Linked DNA regions of Homo sapiens: regions 1 and 2 are each linked to region 3. Evidence: fine-mapped expression QTL. A gene starts in region 3. Each other region holds a variant in brackets. All regions are shown on one strand. Distances are from middle to middle.

What was found. PIP is the estimated chance that this variant, and not a neighbour inherited with it, causes the effect.
Region 1: its variant is fine-mapped to the expression of SLC31A1 in whole blood (INTERVAL, PIP above 0.99). The same link has a PIP of 0.9 or more in T cells and monocytes.
Region 2: its variant is fine-mapped to the expression of SLC31A1 in whole blood (TOPMed, PIP above 0.99). The same link has a PIP of 0.9 or more in macrophages and macrophages after interferon gamma.

The regions. Positions count from the first base shown.
Region 1 is chr9:113,259,586-113,266,664 of GRCh38, forward strand. It overlaps SLC31A1 (solute carrier family 31 member 1), which reads left to right. Exons shown (of 5, transcript NM_001859.4): 5 at 687-4,907. The coding sequence ends at 888. Among named protein-coding and RNA genes, the nearest start is that of CDC26, 12 kb to the right of the region's middle. The variant A/C (reference allele first, on the strand shown) is at 4,117.
Region 2 is chr9:113,185,177-113,192,255 of GRCh38, forward strand. FKBP15 (FKBP prolyl isomerase family member 15) reads right to left here. Exons shown (of 28, transcript NM_015258.2): 12 at 5,295-5,402; 13 at 3,213-3,315; 14 at 2,617-2,723; 15 at 1,073-1,187. Among named protein-coding and RNA genes, the nearest start is that of FKBP15, 33 kb to the right of the region's middle. RefSeq lists an enhancer at 2,359-3,558. The variant A/C (reference allele first, on the strand shown) is at 3,250.
Region 3 is chr9:113,217,994-113,225,072 of GRCh38, forward strand. It overlaps SLC31A1 (solute carrier family 31 member 1), which reads left to right and starts at 3,551. Exons shown (of 5, transcript NM_001859.4): 1 at 3,551-3,685. FKBP15 (FKBP prolyl isomerase family member 15) reads right to left here and starts at 3,284. Exons shown (of 28, transcript NM_015258.2): 1 at 3,198-3,284. The coding sequence starts at 3,250. RefSeq lists enhancers at 3,083-3,212, 3,323-3,432, 4,273-4,462.

The sequences.
Region 1 (7,079 bases), 42 kb after region 3:
TTTTTTTTTTTTTTCTGGAGACAGGGTCTCCCTCTATTGCCCAGGCTGAAGTGCAGTGGCACTATCTTGGCTCACTGCAATCTCTGCCTTCCAGACTCAAGTGATCCTCCCACCTCAGCCTCCTAAGTAGCTGGAACTACAGGCATGAGCCACCACACCCAGCTAATTTTTTTTATTTTTTGTAGAGACAAGGTTTCGCCATGTTGCCCAGGCTGGTCTGAAACTCCTGAGCTCAAGCAATCAGCCCACCTCGGCCTCCCAAAGTGCTGGGATTAAAGGCATTAGCCACCACCCCCAGCCTCTGTTTCTGTTTTTGTAGAATGTAAACTTTGCAAAGGTGGGAAGCCTAAAAATATTCGGGCAGATGAGCGTGAGAGGGTTTACGGCTTCCCTTTCAGGATCTAAGGTGGAGGTAAGTCGGGATTACTCCTCGTCCTTTTCTCCTCCTCCGGAAAAGGGTTCCTTCTACTGGAGGAACCACAGCCATATCTGGCCAATGTTTATAAGCCTGACAGCCCTGTGCTGTTTCATTTCCATGGACCAATCAAAGAACATTCAAGTACCCATGAGTTGCCAGAGTGGCTGTCCAGTTCCAGCTGAGCTCATGGCAAGAACTCTTCCCTCTTTCTCCTGATCTGCAGAACTCCTAGGAGTCCCTGATTGTTGTGTCCCTGTTTACTCTCCAGGCAACAGATGCTGAGCTTTCCTCACCTCCTGCAAACAGTGCTGCACATCATCCAGGTGGTCATAAGCTACTTCCTCATGCTCATCTTCATGACCTACAACGGGTACCTCTGCATTGCAGTAGCAGCAGGGGCCGGTACAGGATACTTCCTCTTCAGCTGGAAGAAGGCAGTGGTAGTGGATATCACAGAGCATTGCCATTGACATCAAACTCTATGGCGTGGCCTTATCGATTGCAGTGGGAAGTTGTTGAAGACTTGAAGACGTGATTCCTGCTCCAATCATCCCTTCTTGCTCCTCTTTGTGCACGTACACACACACACACACACACACACACACACACCCCTGCTCAACAGAGGTTTAGTTTACAGTCTCTGAACTAAAGTAGTAACCTCCCAAATTGTTTTTTCTAATAAGCTGAGATTCCCATTTCTCTTAAGGAGAAGCCACCCATGAGATGTCTTTTCCTTCTCCATCATCTTAGAGCCAAGTTATATGTTCTTGTCTAATCCATGTAGCTTTTTGTTCAATGACTTGATCATCTGCTTCCTTTTTGAATTTTTAACAGATAGTAAGTAAATTTGGTGGTTTTTTCCCCTGGGTCAGTGATGGAAAGGGGTTAACTTCAGCCAGGATTGATGGCAGCTGAGGGAAATTCTTGCCCAACTAAACCCAGAACTCAAACTTAACATTAGAAAATAAGGTCCAGGGCCGGACACAGTGGCCCATGCCTGTAATCCCAGCACTTTGGGGGGCCAAGGCAGGCTGGATCACCTGAGGACAGGAGTTCGAGACCAGTCTGGCCAACATGGGGAAACCCCGTCTCTACTAAAAATACAAAAATTAGCCGGGCATGGTGGTGGGCGCCTGTAATCCCAGCTACTCAGAAGGCTGAGGCAGGAGAATCACTTGAACCTAGGAGGCGGAGGTTGCAGTGAGCCAAGATGGCGCCATTGCACTCCAGCCTGGGTGACAAGAGTGAAACTCCATCTCAAAAAAAAAGAAAAGAAGGTCCAGCTTTTGGATTCAATGAGTGGGAAATACATTGTGCCTTTCTCTAGATGTGATACGTTATACCAAAATCTTTGTAGTGTGCAGAGCGGTGGTTTGAGACTAAATACAGGCTTAGAACTTGCAGAGTGTGTATTCTTGGATGGCTGATGCATCGACTTGCATTCCCACTTAACACTTTGATTAGCATGAACTTGCCAATCAAAAAATGACAATCAATTTGAGAAAATAGAAATAGATATTTTTAAATAAAACCATTCACAGTTTACTTTGTCTTGATACCTTGGTTTGTCCCAGCTGAAGTGAAGCAAGAGAGTTTGAATTAATTTTTCCATTATAATGTTTTCGCATGTCTGCCTCTAAAACTGTGATTTTCAAGCTTTAGCGTGCATCAGAATCACCTGTAGGGCTTGTTAAAACACTAATTGCTGGGCCTCAACCCAAAAGCCCCCAAAGTGGCACTTCTGAGTTCCTGCTGATGTTACAAGGGACCACACTTTTGAGAATCTGTGCTTTAAGCTAAGGAAATATTGCCTGGTGGGTTGGCTGCCTGGTATTGGGCATGGAAATTTGAATTGCTGATTGGTAGATGGTGTGTCTGGACTTAACTCACGTAGTAAATACTGCTGATCAATACCTAATCATTCCACATTTATTGAGCTCCACCTGTGTGTATGTGTACCCAAGCACACATGTGTGAAGGGCTATAGCCAAAGTATTTTTACTAGCCTGTATGAAATCACTAGTCCTTATTTTTAAAGGTCTATGGTTTCTTGGAAGTAGTTTGATTGTTGAGAGAGACCTTTGATCTGCAGTGTAAATCTACCAGTCATGGGCCAGAAGGGCAAAAGCCCAGCTTTCTCTTTGGAAAGACTCAGGCTGTGGTTTGTTGATGGCCAGGTTTTCCTCAGGCTCCAACAACTGTGCTTATACCAAGCAGATCCTCATCCTCCATATAATCATCTTTGTTATTCGTGGGGGTTTAATTACATTACAAGTGGCCAAAACCCCTGTTCTCAGTGAAGAACCACATTGGATTTGTATTCTGTTCAGTTGTAGTCTACACTGCAGTCTTATTCCTGGTTCAAACTACCTCTTTAAATTGATTTGTCTTGTGCTGGTCTGTTAAATCCTGCCCTCCTTGGTGCTAGATCCAGTTGTGCCTCAGGGCAGAGGAAACAAAACACAGCTATCCTGTTGGCCTGTGTTGTGGTTTTGAAGTTTGTACTTTCTCTGTGGGTGCCAGTTAAATATTGGAGAGCAAGGAATGTGGACTTGTATGGCTTTGAACCAAGAGAGGGTTATGAGCCTACTGGATTGAGGTTAAAATCCAAGAACCAACATTTAGAGCTTTGTGCTTTTCTCTCATTCCATCACTTTGTAATGATGATACTTAACATGAGCAGGGTGAATGACAGGTACTGACGAAGTCCAACACAAAGGTATAATACAGCCTGTTGTCTAAAGCCAAGGAGTCATAAAACCATGAGAAATAAATAGGAATCAATAGTTAGTAGTGACATTGGTGCTCTCTAGAAATCTCAGCATGAGCTGCTATAGAATACCCTCCCAGCAACAAAACCTAATCAGTAAGGCCAGCTAGACCCAATGGCTCATGCCTGTAATCCCAACACTTTGGGAGGCCAAGGTGGGAGGATGGCTTGTGTCCAGAAGTTCGAGACCAGCCTGGACAACATAGTGAGATCCTATCTCTATAAAAAATCAAAAATTAGCCAGGCATGGTGGTGCATACCTATAGTCCTGGCTATTTGGGAGGCTGAGGCAGGAGGATTGCTTTAGCCCTGGAGGTCGAGGCTGCAGTAAGCCATGATTGCGCCACTGCACTCAGCCCGGGTGACAAAGCAAGACCCTGTCTCAGAAAAAAAGAAAATTCAAGGCCAGTTAAGACAAAATGCTATGACTTTGAAATTCACAGAAAGAAATAACAGTTTAGATTAGGTCTTCAGGTATTCAGGATAGAGATAATCTCCTGAAAAACCTGAATTTCAGAGATTCTTAGACTGGCTGCCAAAGGATGAAGCTAGTGAAGGAGAAAAAGCTTAAATTCCATCTTGAGCTCTTGGATTGTGATAATACAATGATTTCATTAACTTTTCATTTCTGTATACCTGTTCATTTGGAATTTAATGCTTGACTTCTTTGTTCATTTTGGATCTAAACTTCTCTTTTCTTCCTTCCCCATTCACATCTATTAGAAGACTGCATCACCATTTCTTTGGCCCCCTTACTCTGTTGTCCTTTCCCTTTTCTTTCAGTTTTTTTAATCGCATGTCTAGTATATTAAGTCTCCATAGCCCTCCTGATGCAGTAGACAGTGCTATGCTGTGGATATAATACCAACCAGAAATTGGCATTTATAAACCTGTTAAGAGACTTTAAGCATGCTTCAAGAGGCAGTTG[A/C]CCCACTGGAATTTCTATAAGGCTGGTACCCTTCCCAGAGTTACAGAATCTTAGGTGCCGTCTCTAGTCTGTGAGGGAGGAACTCCCAGCATCCCCATTGCCCACAAATGGAATCCTCACTGTATCCACTAGGAGATTAGAAATTAAGGTTTCTTCACTACTTCTATGGTAGGGTTGTCTGAAATTCCCTTTCAGGCTGTGGGTACTGGTCTTGGGTTCTAGTCATAAGGGGTTCCTTATAAGGAGCAGGCGGAGGGGAGTACACTTTCATGTGATTTAATTTTGATCCTGCCCTCTCCAGCTGCTCCTTCAAAAGATACATCAAAAGATAGAAACTCTGGGCTGGGCACAGTGGCTCACACACTTTGGGAGGCCAAGCGGGGGTGCAGATCACCTGAGGTCAGGAGTTTGAGACCAGCCTGGCCAATGTGGTGAAACCCCATCTCTACTAAAAATACAAAAATTAGCTGGGCGTGGTGGTGCATGCCTGTAATCCCAGCTACTCGGGAGGCTGAGGCAGGAGAATCGCTTGAACCCAGGAGGCGGAGGTTGCAGTGAGCCAAGATGGCGCCATTGCACTCCAGCCTGGGCGACAAGAGCAAAACTCCGTCTCAAAAAAAAAAAAAAGATACAAAGTCTGCATTTGATATAATGCCTTAATTACTGGGTCTACAATTAATGTTGACTGTTTTAGATTGTAAGCTCCTGGAGAGCAGTATTGCTGTAGTAGGAATGTTTTAACAGTGTCATATGAAAAAGAACAAAATAAATATTTTGATTTTGTGATTCTATGCAAGTCTTTCTGCCCAGAGTGATAATGCAATAAGCTAGTCTTTTCATAGTCTGCATAGAGTCTGGCCATTACCATCAGTTTTTAAGATGTCCATATTGTGGCCGGGCGCGGTGGCTCACGCCTGGTAATCCCAGCACTTTGGGAGGCTGAGGCAGGTGGATCATGAGGTCAGGAGATCGAGACCATCCTGGCTAACACGGTGAAACCCGTCTCTACTAAAAAAAATATTAAAAAATTAGCCAGGCCTGGTGGTGGGCGCCTGTAGTCCCAGCTACTTGGGAGGCTGAGGCAGGAGAATGGTGTGAACCCGGAAGTCAGAGGTTGCAGTGAGCCAAGATTGCACCTGGGCAACACAGCGAGACTCCGTCTCAAAAAAAAAAAAAAAAAAAGATGTCCGTATTTTAGGTGGTATGATCCTTTTAGGTTTTCATCTCACTCTCCCCCTACTCGACTTAAAATGACATGCCTAGTACATGCCAGAAGATCCATGTGACCTTCTGCACAGGAGACAGGGTCTTCATGAAGCCACAAGTATTTCAGTATACTGAGGATTCCTCAGTTTAAAAGCCAACTTTTGTCACATCATAATCCCTTCCCTGTGTCTGCTGTTAGGCAAGAGGCTCTGAGCTGGGCCTATAAGAAGTTCACCGCCCAACCTTGAGATGCACAGTGACCCTGCCAGTCCCTTTGGTAATGCCAAAATGCTGACGTTACTTGCTCTTCCCACTGGCCCCCAGTGGGCATCTTGCCATCACCACCATTCCTAGTCTCTTCCGAGTGTAGTGTCATGAACATGGACTTAGAGGAGTCAATGAGTTTGGATTCTGGTTCCATCACCTACTAGCAGTATGACCTTAGGAAGTTAGTCTAATGATCCCTAAGCCTTAGTTTTCTTATTTAGAGATGGAGTCTCACTCCGTCACCTAGGCTGGAGTGCAGTGGTACAGTCTCGGCTCACTGCCACCTCCATCTCCTGGGTTCAAGTGATTCTCCTGCCTCAGCCTCCCAAGTAGCTGGGGCTACAGGCACACACCATCATGTCTGGCTAATTTTTGTATTTTTAGTAGAGATGAGTTTTTGCCATGTTGGCCAGGCTAGTCTTGAACTCCTGAGCTCAGGTGATCCGCCCGTCTCGGCCTCCCAAAGTGCTGGGATTGGGAAAGGTGTGAGCCACTGTGCCCGGCCATAATACCTGTTTGAATTAGGCACCTAGCACAAAATAGGTATTCGAGCCTTAGTATTTTTTTTATTATCTACAATTGTTGTTACTCCAGCTTTCAGAATGAAAAGTAACACTCTTCTTGATAAGGTTAATAGGTTAGTATTTTTCTTTTTTTGTTGTTGTTTTTGTTTTTGAGACGGAGTTTTGCCCTTGTTGCCCAGACTCGAGTGCAATGGTGCAATCTCAGCTCACTGCAACCTCTGCCTCCTGGGTTCAAGCACCTCCACCTCAGCCTCCCGAGTAGCTAGGATTGCAGGCATGCACCACCACGCCCGGCTAATTTTGTATTTTTAGTAGAGACAGGGTTTCTCCATGTTGGTCAGGCTGGTCTCAAACTCTGGACCTCAGGTTATCTGCCCACCTCAGCCTCCCAAAGTGCTGGGATTACAGGCATGAGCCACCATGCCCGGCCCTTCTTTTTTTTTTTTTTTTAATTTTATAGAGTCAGGGTTTCCCTGTGTTGCCCAGGCTGGTCTAACTCCTGGACTCAAGCAATCCTCCTGCCTCAGCCTCCCGAAGTGCTGGGATTACAGGCATGAGCCACCACACCTGTCCCTCTCCCCCTCGTATTACTCAGACTTAAACTACCCCAAAAAGGCTAAAGTCCTGCTAAGAGTCTCCGTAGAACTGATGATTCAAGAGGCTCTTATGATCACAGCTGGTGATTCCCTGTGTTGAATTAGTGAAAACAGGCCAGGCACAGTAATCCCAGCACTTTGAGAGGACTGCTTAATGTCAGGAGCTCAAGCCCAGCTTGGGCAACACAGATGCCTGTCTCTACATAAAACAATAAAAATTTTTAAAAAAAATTTTTTTTTAATGCCCAGAACAATAGGGCATGATTCAAAATTATCCTCCGAGCTGCCTCTCTGGTTCTTTCTGGGAAAAACACTTAGGCAAGTTGAGAAAGGAAGGAAAGTTGGAATAATGGCAAAACTGTTAGAAGCA
Region 2 (7,079 bases), 33 kb before region 3:
CCCTTGGTGAGCTCTCAGTCTGGCTGGGAGACTGACATGTAAACAAATCATTACAAGAGAGTGTATTAAGTGCAAAACAATGGACCATATACTAGGTATAAAAGTAGCACAGAGAAAAGCACGATTAACTCTTTGGTGACACGCGTACACAGTTGTGTTTGTGGGAAGAGAGGAAAGAGGGACAGAGAATAGTCAGGGAAGGCTTCACAGAGGGAGATGACAGTTTTGATGGATGAAAAAGCGTATCCCAGATGGAGAAGGGCAGAGCTTCCAGATAAAGGCTGCATTCAGGAAATCCTGACCAGTCCAGAACCACAAATTATGTTGCAGGACATACTGGCTTCTTCCTACCACTGTCCTAATACCAAAGCTGATTACTAAACAGAAGACTAATAGCAGAACAAGGCAGGATTCCATCATAGCAGTTTACACTTTATCTTGGTTTGATTTTTTTACATTAGATACTCACATTTGTACATGCATACAAAATATCTGAAAAGTTACCCAAGTAACTGTTAACAACAGTTTCCCAAGGTCAGGGGGTTTATGGAGGGGAAGGACAGTAACTTCACTTTACACCCTTTTGTACTGCTTGACTTTTTTATAAAAGTCTCTTATTTTCATAATTTAAAAATGTTAACAGAGTAGCTTTCATTAGAGATACTAAACACCTATAGTATTCAACTTTCTCCCAATTTCCTCCAATGTTTTGCTCTTTTACTATTTTCTCTAAACTCTAGCTACTCTAACAGAGGAATTAAAAGGGCCAGGGGAGAAAATCCAAGGAAAAAAACACAGAATGTGGACACAAGGAAACATTGGGGGATGACGGAAATGTTCTAAAATAGGATTGTAGTGATGAATGCACAACTCTGCAAATTTACTAAAACACTTTTGAATTGCACATTTAAAATGAATGAATGTGTGGAATACATATTATATCTCAACAAAGCTGTTAAAAAAGAGAAGAAACAATGAGTAGAGAGCTGTTGGTGTGAAAATGAAGGAGGAGCAAGAAGAGGGAAAGCACAGCAAGAGCGGAAGATGAGAAACTGAGGGAATTACTCCCTACCTTGGAAATGGGGAGGCTGAGAGAGCGGTGCTGGGTACAAAGGCCGAACGGGCTGCAGCTGGGAGGTGACGGCAGATGCCTGGGGATAAGCGTAGGCTTGCATACCTGCATAGGGCTGAGAAACTGACGAGTTACCACTGGTTGATAAAACATTCATGTCTTTCTTTTTTGTTCACATTTTTCTTTGGTGGAATAAAGTGGATGAGCTGGGAGGAGACTCAAACTTACTGAAGCTAGAGATGGGTGAGATCTGGGTTTGGCAGTTGGTAAGGACTGCAGCAGGAGAGTTATCTATGTATCCCAGGGGAAACCAGTCACTAAAATCCTACCCAGAAACTGAAGAAAGTGTATCTTAGGTCACTACCCAGTCATCTGGTGAGATAATTAAGCAGGGATTCATTCCCCATTATCAGGCCTATTGTCTAAGAAGTTTTTAGATTAATAAACTCTGCTTAGCTTCCATTGAGTTTAAAGAAGAAGTGCTCACTGAGATTCCAAACCAAATCTGCCAATTTCCAAGGATGCCTCTCCCCTGCTAGATTCTGAAGCTAATCCACGAGACCAAGAGCTCTCATGTTCCTTTGAGTCTCGGTCACCTCAACTGTAAGAGGAAGATAATAATATCACTTCATAGGGCTGTTCTGTGGACTAAATGAAGTGAGATAGGTAAAGTTCTGAAAAGCTAGTAAGTTACAGGCCTGACAGATAGTAAGCGCTTAATAAACAGCAGCTTTTATTTTAATGAGGATGGTAATTCTTCCTTGAAATAAGGAAGTCTAGCTCATTTCCAGGGATAGATATAACTACGCATCCACTTAAAAAAAATTCTTAGTCTACAGCATAGTAATTCTCCATGGAGGAGAGGAGGGATGGGGAGAAAGAGGGCAACAGTGGGACTTTTTCCAGTTTCGAGACTCCCCATGTTAATGAGGCATAGCCTATCCACCATCATTCCCACACCTCCATTAAGCATCACAAGGAGTGAGCAGCTGTTCCCAGTGACAGTATGCCTTATCCACCAAGTGTGTTGAGGCAGAAGAAAGGGTCTGCTACCCCTGGCAAACAGGCTGCTGCCATTGTTTTCTGTGATAACAGGAAAAAGGCCTTCTTTAAGAAAAGTTTACTAGATAGCAGAGTCAAGCTACATTTTCCACATGGTTCCACTTTTAAACCATACCATTCTGCTGAATATACTGCAGAATGTTAGCCTGCCAACTTTTAGTAGAAAAGAATACAGAAGAACGCGAATATACACGCTTCAACTGGATATGTGTGAAAAGAAAAGGAAACAAACATTGATTGCATCTTTACTACGTTGTACTAGGGGCTCTACTTGTTCTTGCATTTAATCTTTATGACACTGGAACGTAGGTTATCCTTTGCCTGGTTTAGAGATGAGAAAGTGGTAACCAAGGAAGGGAAAAAAATTACAAACTCTGACTTTGGGGAACTGCTACTGTATGAAATGTACAGGAAGAAGAAAAGAGACTGACTAGAACCACAGCAAATTATAGGATATAATTAATACGGTTATAAAATGTTACCTGAAAGGATTGGGCATTTCCAGATACAGCTGAGTGGGAATCGAGAGATGACACTTGCATTAAGGCAGCAGAAGGTGCCTGGAGCCCAGTAACAGATGGCTGAGGTGCTAAGATAAAGGGAGACATTTTCACTGTTATCCACCCTTGCTTCTTGGTGTGAGTCTAGACTAGCACCTTACATACTATCATGCTTCAGACTCAACTATTTTCCTTGCCTAGTCTCCCTACACTCAGCTCTACTGCAATCTCAGGAATGAGCCAGTGGAAGGAAACTGGGTGCTCTCATGTGCTTCTGACTCAGCCCTAGGATCCCACCCGACAGGAAGTGCAGAACACACCCAGGGAGATGTCTCAATAGCTGAGTGCAGATTTCCAAAACTGACAGTGCAACACAGCAGAAGTCACAACCAGCAGCCAGGTCCATCTCTGGGTATGAAAATGCCTTACCCAGGGACAAACTGACAAGCGTCACACTCTTACATTTACACTTTAGTCCTCAGTACTGAAACAATGCAGCCTAACAGTTTAAGGAACAGTGACGATAATTTTCATGCTGACCCAGTTCAAGGCCACAGAGCCTCAGAGAGGTTCCTTACCCTGTGAGGTCATCTGTGGTAACGCTGGATGGGCCGG[A/C]TGAAGAGAGGGCTGGACGGACGGAGTCACCACAGGCTGCCCACCTCCTTGCAGAGTGTTCACATCCTGAAACAGGAACAAGCGTTTGGGTTACTCTGTACGGGGTCCCTCATTGAAGACTGAGGCTGACTGTCTGCCCTAAACCTGCTTCCAACACAGGATTTCTAGGCAAAGAAGAGGAAGGAAAGGTAAGCGGAAGGCCAAGAGTTGAGGGTGTGGGTTGTGGAGAAAAAGCACTCTGCTATGCAATAAAGTAAGAGTCCTTCTCCCTATAATCATATTGAATAAGTAAATATAGTTAATTTCCACAAATATTCTCAGAGGTTGATGTTCTATTGTCTGAAGCAGCTAAACTAACCACTCTTCAGAATGTATCATTTTCCAAGCCAGTAACTGCCTTAAGACAAATCTAATCTATTCCCACAAAAAAAGTGGTCTTTTGCAAGAAATAATCCAGCCTCTTCGCTTCTTACAAATCATCCCCATAGTCCTCAAGGTACTCAATGAAAATCAGATAACGTAGGATTCACTGCACCTGATTAACATGCTGTTTTTGGATAATATAGTTTTAGGATGTTTTTCCAACATTCTTTATTTTCATAAAACCAAAGCTTTTCATAAAATCAAAGCTATAACTCTAAACAAAGTTATTCTACCTCCTGCTTCATATAAGAAACAGAAAATCTTGAGGCACAATATACAGTGACTGTAATCTGCTATGCTATAGTTCAAAGACCAAAGTTTCAGACATTCTTTTACTTTAGAACTTCACCTTGTCCCCTTATATTCTCTTCTAGAAAAACATCCCAGTTTTAGATTTCTACAGCTCTTAACCAACCTAAATGTCTAATAACAGAGTGAAAGGAATTATAATAAAATGATATAATGGAACACTGGGTTTCCTTTAAACCACTTTATTTACTTAAATCATTTATGTTAATGTAAATGTTTATGATACAACATTAGGTTTAAAAATCAGGTTACAAAGCAATATATAAAGATGAATGCCCTTTTTGTTCAATATGTTTCTTTTCTATAATTTTAAATTATTCTAAAATGAATAAGTAGCACATAAAATTTTTAATAAAAATATTCTTATTTACACTGCATTTCCAGACCAGAAAAAAATAATCCTATAACAATAGGCCTCAGAAATCCTATCTTCCTTTAAGATGTTAAATCTACATAGAGCTTTTCCAAGAAATAAAACAAAAATGTAAAATATAAAGTATATTCCAGAAAAAATTTTTTCAAGACCATCGCCCTTTCCTTGTTTTCTATCAAAGTAAAAGAATACTAAAAATCAGTCTAAGTTATATATTTCACTTCAATTGAGAAAGGACGATTATATTCAATAAAGAACTAACCACTAGAGAAGAATTAAGTTAAAATTAAGTTACTTTATAGCATACACCAAATTCCAAATGGATTAAAAATTTAGATCTAATTATAAAATATTGATCAATATCTTTAAAAATACATGTGATATTTATAATCTGAAAGTGGAGAGGCTTTCTAAGCATAATGTCAAAAGCAAATAACAAGGGGAGAAAATTGACAGACTTGAATTCAATAAAATTATTGAACTTCTAAATAGAAAACAAACACAAGAATACCACATACAAAGTCAAAAGACATACTAGTTGGAGCTTTAGTGATAGGCAACATCAGCGAGAAGACCAACATTTCCCAAAAGAATCTAAACATTCGCTCAATAAATATGAATTGAACACCTGCTATGGATTGGGCATCATGCTGCCCAGAGAGTGATCTTTAGTAACAACAGAGATTCTAGTAAAGAAGGCTAAATTAACTACTGAAAACTGCCCAGTTCTTGTAAAAGATCTACAAAATTGCTTCCATCTCTCAGGGAAGTACTAATCACAGTAGAAACACATGTACCAATACCAATCTGTATCATTTTGCATATTAGCTCTCTAAATAATGATTCTGCCTTAGAGAAAAAACAATCACTCCAACCAAATGAAAAGAAAGATGATGGCGACATCTGTACTATTCATTCTAATACAGCCAGGGGGACATACTTCGATTTCTGAATCATTGGAATCCAGCTGTGGTGGAAGGATGGGCAGCATGGGCTGGCCCATTTTAGCCATCCGAGAGATCAACTTGGCTTTGACTGCATCGGGACTCTAAAAAGAGAGGAAAGTCACAAAAATCACTGTGATTAAAGCTCATCACCTTCAGGCAGCTCTATCCCTTTGGCTCTTGTATCAAATCCTTCAACAAATCCCCCTACCATATCTATTTAAAAACATTTCCTCTAGAAAATGAGAAAGATTTCTTGCATAGAAGTATACATGGATCACAATTAATAGCAGTAAAAATAATTCCCTGTATCTTTGGAATGGACAAAGTGGTTTCACATACATTGCCTCATTTCAATCAAGTCTCCCCAGCAGGCATAATTAGTCTCATTTTACAGATGAAAAATTAAAGTGAGATGTTAAGAAAGGGAGGCATTTTAGGTGACAGTACCCTCACTCAAAACCCTGAAGCAATTCGGTAGATAATTCAGAAGAGATCTGTGGAGAAAAGGAAACAGGAGCTCTTTGTTTTAACTTCAGGTTCACTTAACTATGACTTGGCATTAACTACCCATTAGACCCTGTGCTAGAAGCTTCCATTAACTGATCCAAAATTTCAGAATGGCAAGTAAGTACACCTGAAGGTGCACAATATGAGCTATTGGGTATAGAAGGAAATGATCATAACCTCCATTTTTATTATTATTACTTTTTTTTTTTTGAGATGGGTTCTCTATCACCCAGGTTGGAGTGCAGTGGCGTGATCTCGGCTCACTGCAACTTCCATTTCCCAGATTTAAGACGTCTTCCCACCCCAGCCTCCCAAGTAGCTGGGACCACAGGCGCTAATTTTTTGTATTTTTGGTCGAGAAAGGGCTTCGCCATGTTGCCCAGGCTGCATTTTTATTATTTTTAAGCTATCAGTGTAAGACACTGAGTTTGCTTACAGGGATTGGTGGTACTTTATGTACATAATTTGTCAATAAACCTATACTGGGAGTGTGTGCTTATTTTTTCGTAACTGATGATGTATCCAAAAAAAGTTGGATACATCAGGAAAGGACTAGTTATATAGACCTTATGCACACAATGGAATATTGTGATATGCAGATTAAAATGAGGAAGCTCTCTATACACCAACATGAAAAGATTCTGCATTATATATATATATAATATAAATTATATATATATAGTTATATGGAAAAGGCAAGGTGCATTACATACAGAGTATGCTACTTTGTGTGTGTGAAAGGAGGGAGGAATAAAAAATACATTTCTACTTGTGTGCACCTGCATAAAGAAACACTGAAAGAATATATAAGAAACTAATAAAAGCAGTTACCTAAGGGGTGTGAGATGGAATAGGGTAGATAAGGACAGGAATAGGAGTGAGTCCTCACAATGTAGATCTTGTTATATTGTTTTGATAACTGTGCCATATAAATGTAATTACCTATTCAAAACAAAAGATAAAAACTAAAATGGAAAAGAAAAAGAAAAAGAAAGGTGGTTAATTTCATGTAACGTGAATTTTGCCTCCATTAAAAAAAACAAATTTGTTTAAAAAAAAAAAGAGAAGAAAAATAGTTGGAGGCCATTAGTCTGCTAGAAGTTACTATAGCCTTAGAAATAGGTAACGAGTTGTTATGACTACAGAGTACAATGGAACCAATATTGGACCATTTTTGTGACTGTTCAAAGATCTGAGATAATAATTATTCTTAAATTTTCTTCTGATTCTTTGATTTAACCTTCTGGGTTTAGGAGATCACTTCAAAACAA
Region 3 (7,079 bases):
ACAGAATTAACTACATTAAAAAAAAATGTTAGACAATGCATTTAGTCGCCAAGGACCTCACCTCACCTCAGTTTTATATTTTCTTTCTCATCAAAAACAAAAACACATGCATTTATACTGTATCAATGTATTTTAATAAACAGAGATTCTTTTTGTTGGTAAAGTATTAATACTTTTTTAAACAAACTGACATCAAACATCCATTTCAATAATAACAACAATAGCACATAGGCAGGTCTGGTAGAATCTGCCTACCTGATTTCAGATCCAGGCTCTATTACTTTCTAGCTGCATGATCTTGGGCAATTTACCTCTCTGAGCCTTTCCCATTTGTAAAACGGATATAATAATTAATAGTACCTCATAGAGAGGAGTAAATACAATTATATATATATATATATATATATATATATATATATACATTTCTCATTTGTAAAATGGGCATAGTAGGTAAAATTATTTCATAGAGTAGAAGGGAGGAATAAATACAATAATGTCTATGTATTTCTTAGAACAGTGTATGGCATTAAGTAAGCACAGAGTACGTATTTATATACTTGTGAACACATCCTATTATCTCAAAATGTGGTTCAACTCAGATACCCCTGCAAGGGTGAAAGCATGCTTGATTGACACGGAAGTTGACCTGCAACCATAAACTGGTATTAGCATTAACATTAAAACTACAGAACTGGCAAAGGTCTCAAAGTTTATCTAGGTCAAACCTCATTATTGAATAGGTTGGGGTATGGAGGGACAAGGATGGAAGATAATCTGTCCAAAGTCACATTCCTAACTGGGGATAGAATCAACATTTGAATCTAGGCTTTTTCCTATCTTTTACAGAACTCAAAATGCTTTCTGATGATCGGTTAATTTATCTTTCTACCATCTTTAGACTGGTGATTTATCATTACTATGCTAATCGGATCTGCCTACACATACCTTTATAATCTAAAACAAATATATACATAATTGGCCCCTTAAAAATGCTTTGTGATTATTATTCCTGGATTGATTTTATTCTACTACTAAAATAAAAGTTTCTTAGGGGCAGAAACTGTGCCTTATTCCTATCTGGATTAGCTGAAGCCAAGTACTATTAGTTCATTACTATTACTTCCCACAACGGTGAGGAATGGGCTAAAACAAACTAACAAACAAAAACAAGGCTCCTGATTACTACTTCTAGATTAATAGTAAACTCTAAGAGGCCTAGAAACTCAGAAGGCAGATTATCAGATACTCCTACTTCTATTAGGCTTGAATATCCTTCATGAAATCAAGCAAATCATGTGTTTAAATCAAGAGACTTGGAACTTAAGCAAGTATACTTACAGTAATATATGGCTATAAAAGAGGAAGTGAAAAGTAGCTGCAGTATTCACTGTCATATGTTCTACTTCCTTAGAGAAAACCAAAAAAGGAATAGCTAAATCAGAGAATTGTGGTGAAACTTTCTGTATTCTCAGTGTTAAATTTGATTTGGTTTTCCTGATAACTGTGGGGAACAAAAATAAACTATAACTTTCCTCAGTATGTCTTTTACCATCAAATTAGCTGTTGTCTATGTCTAGGAGCACAGTCACATGCCTAGAATTCAAGTGTCTCAGATCCTTGAGAAGCCTGCTCAGGAAAAAAGAATAGTTGAGCCACCAAGAATTTATCTCTGGCCAGGAATCTGGAAAAGAGCACATGGCTGTCATTACCTATCCCATAATTTTCAGTCAGCTTGGACTGATTGTTGCATGAAAATTGGGAGCCCTAACATTACAGACTTCTCCCAAATACTTTCACATAGTGAAGAATGCGAATTTAAAGTGGAATAGGGAAAAAAGGAACAAAAGCACAGCTTAACTGTAAAATAACTGAGAAACGGAAAGAACTCAAAGTGGAACTAAGTGAATGCAGGCCATCTAAAGACGGGGTAGGAAGGGAACAGAGTGGTGAGAGTGAAAAAGACTAAAAGGTAGGTAATATAGAGCTAGTCAGTGTAAATCAAAAATTCCTACTTAAGGACAAAAGAAGGCCAGTGTCATTTTATGGTCATTCATCTATTAACTCATTTGTTTATGTATTGTCTATGACTACTCTCACCCTACAAGGCAGAACTGAGTATTTGTGGTTGCAATAGAAACCACATGGCCCAACAGATCTGGAAGCAACTTAAGGGCAGGCACAGCAGTTTAATCATTTTTGTAACCTCTTAGCATTTAGCAGAATAAGGGGCATATGTGGTGCATTTGTCATTTTTCCAGTACATTCTTCAGCACGCACAAAATTTGTTAAGCATATGTTCAAAGAAAAGCTCTGCAATGATCAGAGCTTGGTAGCTCACAAGTTTGGAGGAAGTCAAGCTGTCCACTGGCACAACACAATGGAAAAGGCTAAACTGACTACTAAAAGAGACAAAACCCTTCCTCTCTTTAAAGATTTCTATTCCAGGCTGGTATATATTAATATAATGCTTGGGGAAACTGGAGAATGACAGAAGTCTGTTACGTTGGTTTTAAGCTTTAAGCTTTACAAAGTGCAATTTCGCAGCTATTATTCATTCAACAGCCACTTCCTGAGCACTCACTATGTGCTAGGTACCATGCTGCATGCTAGACAGAAATGAACACCATAAGCAGTCCCTGTCCGGTGAGGACTCATAATCTAATAGGTGCGGGGTATAAGAATAGAGGCAAACACACCTAGCTGCAGGAATAAGGAAGAGAAAGCAATTCATTCTGCCTGAGGTTGCAGAAGGAAAAGCATCCAAAACGTGACATCCGAGCTGGGCCTTGAAGAATGCTAGAGCTGACCCACCAAGGCCTGGTTCTAAAGTGTCTTCGCCTTCTCCATGGAGAAAAGAAGTCTCACATCAGCCCCAGCTGACTCCTATAAAAATTCTGAGGCAGGAAGTCTCATCAGCAATCATTCCCATTTCACCGGAGAAATTGTGACCCAGAATGCAAAAGGCAAACCCAGGGCTATCTTCCCGCCAAGAGAGATGCCGGGTCCCGAACCTCAGATCGGCAGGGTCAGCACAGTTGCAAGTTCTGCCCAGATTCTGAGAGGTGTAGAGCACCGGAATGTGGCAAGGGTCTCCCCCCGGAAGTTGGGAAAAGGCCTGAGAAGAGATCGACCCCCCTCCAACAATCCGCCGGTATCTCTCAGCCACGCCCTCCAGCGCATACTTCTCAGTCACTCACCCGCCGCTCGGCGAGAGGAAATCGGTGTCGTCCTCGTCCCCCGCACCGAACATTGCGTTGGCTTTCACCGGGTTGCGGGGAGGAAGCTGGGTATTCCCAGAGTCCCAGGGCCTGTCACCGCCGACGTCGTAAAATGCCGCGGCGGCGTGCTGCTTTCCGGCAGGGCGAACTCCAGCACGGTCTCTGGACCGAAAGTAGACTGGGCTCTGGAGAAGGTGGGGCAAAGGCAAATGAGAGGCTCGCGCGGGCACGAGCGCCGAGTGACGTCAGGCCTCTCCAGCCCGCAGCGGGGCGGAGCTTCACAGCCCCTTGCAGGGATTGGTCGGTAATGCTAGGGGGCGGGAGGGGGCGGGAAATCCTCGGCCTCGGTGGCGGTGGTGGACACGTCGAGCCGGGTAGAAGTGGAGGGGCCGTTCGAAGAGTCGTGAGGGGGTGACGGGTTAAGATTCGGAGAGAGAGGTGCTAGTGGCTGGACTTGACCTGGAAAGGTAAGGCTTCTCTCGGCCCCTCTTTCGCACCCCTGTGCATGGGTACCGTCCTTTTCCCAGCGGGACAAGGACCTTCCTCGCCGCTTTCCTCAGCTCCGCGGAAGGAGAAAGAGCTCGGGACTGGAGGGTTAAAGACTGGGGCTTCGGCCCGGCCCCTGCAGTGGCATAGCCAGAGTGACCTTGGGCCGGGGTGCTCGGTGCCTCAGTTTCCCCGTGTATGCAACCGGCCATTTGTCCAGTTCTTCCATGTGCCTGCTGGTCCAGAAGATTTTAGAGCTCAGAGGCCATGGATTTCAATCCCGGCCTCCTCGTAATCTCAGAATTTACAGATAGGGAGACGAAGGAACTAAGCACCCGGGTGACTAGTCCGAGGTCACAAAGAGTAAAGGGCAGACTGAGACTGGATTCCTCGTCCTTTGATTCAGGACATAGTGAGCTAGTGGGTGAACAAGAACCTTATCAGCCCTTAAGCACTGTGTGCCCTTACAGAGTGACTATTGAAAGACTGTAGCATACACCTCGAGGAAAGTCCCCTTTCTAGAGTCCACCTGTATTCTACGCGGATGAGGTGCAGAAGAGCTAAGATATTCTGGCGGTGGGTGATGGAAAGGAGGATACTTTGGAGGCAGACACATCCCCACCCCAACTTTGGCGTGGGTTTCCCTGGGTCTTCCTGCGACAGCCCTAAATCAACATCAATTGTGGCGGACTCCTCTGCCTCCAGTTTCCACCCTATCTGTATCTTACATAAGTATTTCTTTGGTTAACCTGGTATCATTCTCGAAACAATCCTGGGGTAGTCCTGGCTTAGACAAGGTGTGGCTAAGGAGATAGTGTCCCAGCGTAGCGTCCACAGACTCACTGGAGTTCTTGGGCTTCCCCTCACAGTCAGGTTGGTACTACAGGTGTCCCTTACGTGAATGTTTCAATCTGTCAGTATGAAATTGAAATGAAATGATTGGTAGCTCCCTCCCAGAGAACTTTGCACCTCCTGGCAAAGATGTTAAAGCAGCGAAGGCTCACAGTTGGAATGATGCAACTGGAATCTAAGCACTAGAACCGGAACTGGAACTAGAATCTAAGGACTAGCACTAGAACTGTTGCAGTAGCTCTGTTTAGTGTGTGAACTTGGCTACCTCTTGGAGGTGTTGGGGGAGTAACTGGATTAAGTACCATGGCACTTTCTAATCCCTCTCCCCAACACCGGTCACTGTGATTGCAGCACTGAAACATCTAAATGTTTAACAGAAAGAGCTTGCTAGCCCCTGGCTTACATTATCTATGGTATTTTTAACATGGAATGAATACTTAAAGTCACTTGCAAAGCAGTCTCACTGCAGAATCTTTCTAGGTGTTTATGACATGTCCTTCCAGCCTTTTCTTTAAAAAAAAAAAATGGCCAAGGGAATATTTGAACTCTTATCTTGTATTCTTGGGTGGAGCTGATTTTATCCTGGATGTTTAAGTAGCTTTTGTAGGTACTCAGGAATCCTAAAATCAATAGCCTTTTTGGTGATTGGAACATCACGAACATGCATACGCAGATTATCACTGTAGAAACACAGCTGCTGATTCTCATTAGCAGTATGAGGAGGAGGAAGATGATGGTGAGTCTTGCCAGGCTTTGAACTGCAGGACTGGGTGCACCTAAAAAAAAAAAAAAAGAAAGCCACTGTCTTCCTAAATTCGTGTATCTTCAGATTGGTAATACTGGACTAGGAATCAGGAAATCTGAATTCCTGTCCCAGCCCTTATAACTCACTCTGAGTTTGGGCCAGGCTCCCTAAGCACTGTAAAATGAGTGGATTAGACCTGGACTTCTACTGAGTAACTGCTGGGGATACAAAGGTAAGTAAGGCACAACCTTGATCTCAAGTTTAAAGTAAGCATTTTTGTTTATTTGTTTTGCTTAAGTATACAACTTTTAGAATACTCATAAAATATATTGTCAACCCCCAGAAGATTGGCCAGGAAGCAGCAATTTTTTTTCTCCACCCTCCACTCCCCTTACTCCCTCAGGGAAGCAGCAATTTTAATAATTATTTTCAAATTATCAGCAATTTTGCAACAGAGATGACAGTCTTTATATACGAGTATACCCATACTAATCTGTAATGATGCATGCATTTTAAAATTAGTAGTTTAAAGTTATAACCAAGTTATATCAGGCATAATGATAGGAATATGAATTAAATGCAGGTTCTAGGGGATCTATAACATTCCGTTCACTCAGTCACTGAAAGCAGACTTAGGGCCATTAGTTGGTTAACTGAAGAAGTAAGTTAAAGCAGGGAATCATACAGATAATAGTTATATGCATAACATTTTAACGAACACATAAACATTCTTTTGCCATTCTTTTAACATAAGGCCTCAGCCTTTTCTTGGAGTGTAGGACCCTGTTGCCTGTTTTTATAAGTAAAGCTTTATTAGAACACAGCCTTTCTCATTTGTTTATGTATTGTCTATGACTCCTCTTACCCTCCAAGGCAGAATTGAATATTTGTGATTGCAACAGAAACCACATGGCCTGCAACATCTAAAATGTTTACTTTTGGCCCTTTATAGAAAGAGCTTGCTAGCCCCTGGCCTACGTTATCTATGGTATTTTTAACATGGAATGAATACTTAAAGTCACTTGCAAAGCAGTCTCACTGCAGAATCTTTCTAGGTGTTTATGAAATGTCCTTCCAGACTTTTCTGTTGTCTCCCACACCTAACAGCAAGTTTATGTGTTATCTGTATGCTCACTTTTTTTTTTTTTTTTGAGACAGAGTTTCGCTCTTGTTGCCCAGGCTTGAATGCAATGGCACAATCTCGGCTCACCACAACCTCCACCTCCCGGGTTCAAGCGATTCTCCAGCCTCACCCTCCCGAGTAGCTGGGATTACAGGCATGTGCCACCATGCCCGGCTAATTTTGTATTTTTAGTAGAGACGGGGTTTCTCCATGTTGGTCAGGCTGGTCTGGAACTCCCGACCTCAGGTGATCCACCCGCCTTGGCCTCCCAAAGTGCTAGGATTAGAGGCGTGGGCCAACGCACCCGGCCTTGTGTGCTCACTTTTATCTGGTCTTTCGAAAGCATTCAGTGTGGTGTTTTAGAAATAACTACTAGAGAGTCTATGTAGTACAGTAGTTAAGTACTTGAGCTCTGGAGCCAAATTGCTTTGCCACTTATTAGTTGTATAGGCCATAGACAAGTTACTCAGTTTTTGCCTTTGTAAAACAGGCATAATGGTAGTATCCATTTCTAGGTTTCTTGTGAATATTATAGGAGTTAATTCATGTAAAGCATTTAGAACAGTGCCTGGCAGGTAGTAAGTACTCAGTGTTAATTGCTGCTGTCATTTTTCTCTTCTCATTTATACTTCATTGCTTTACATAGTATTTACGT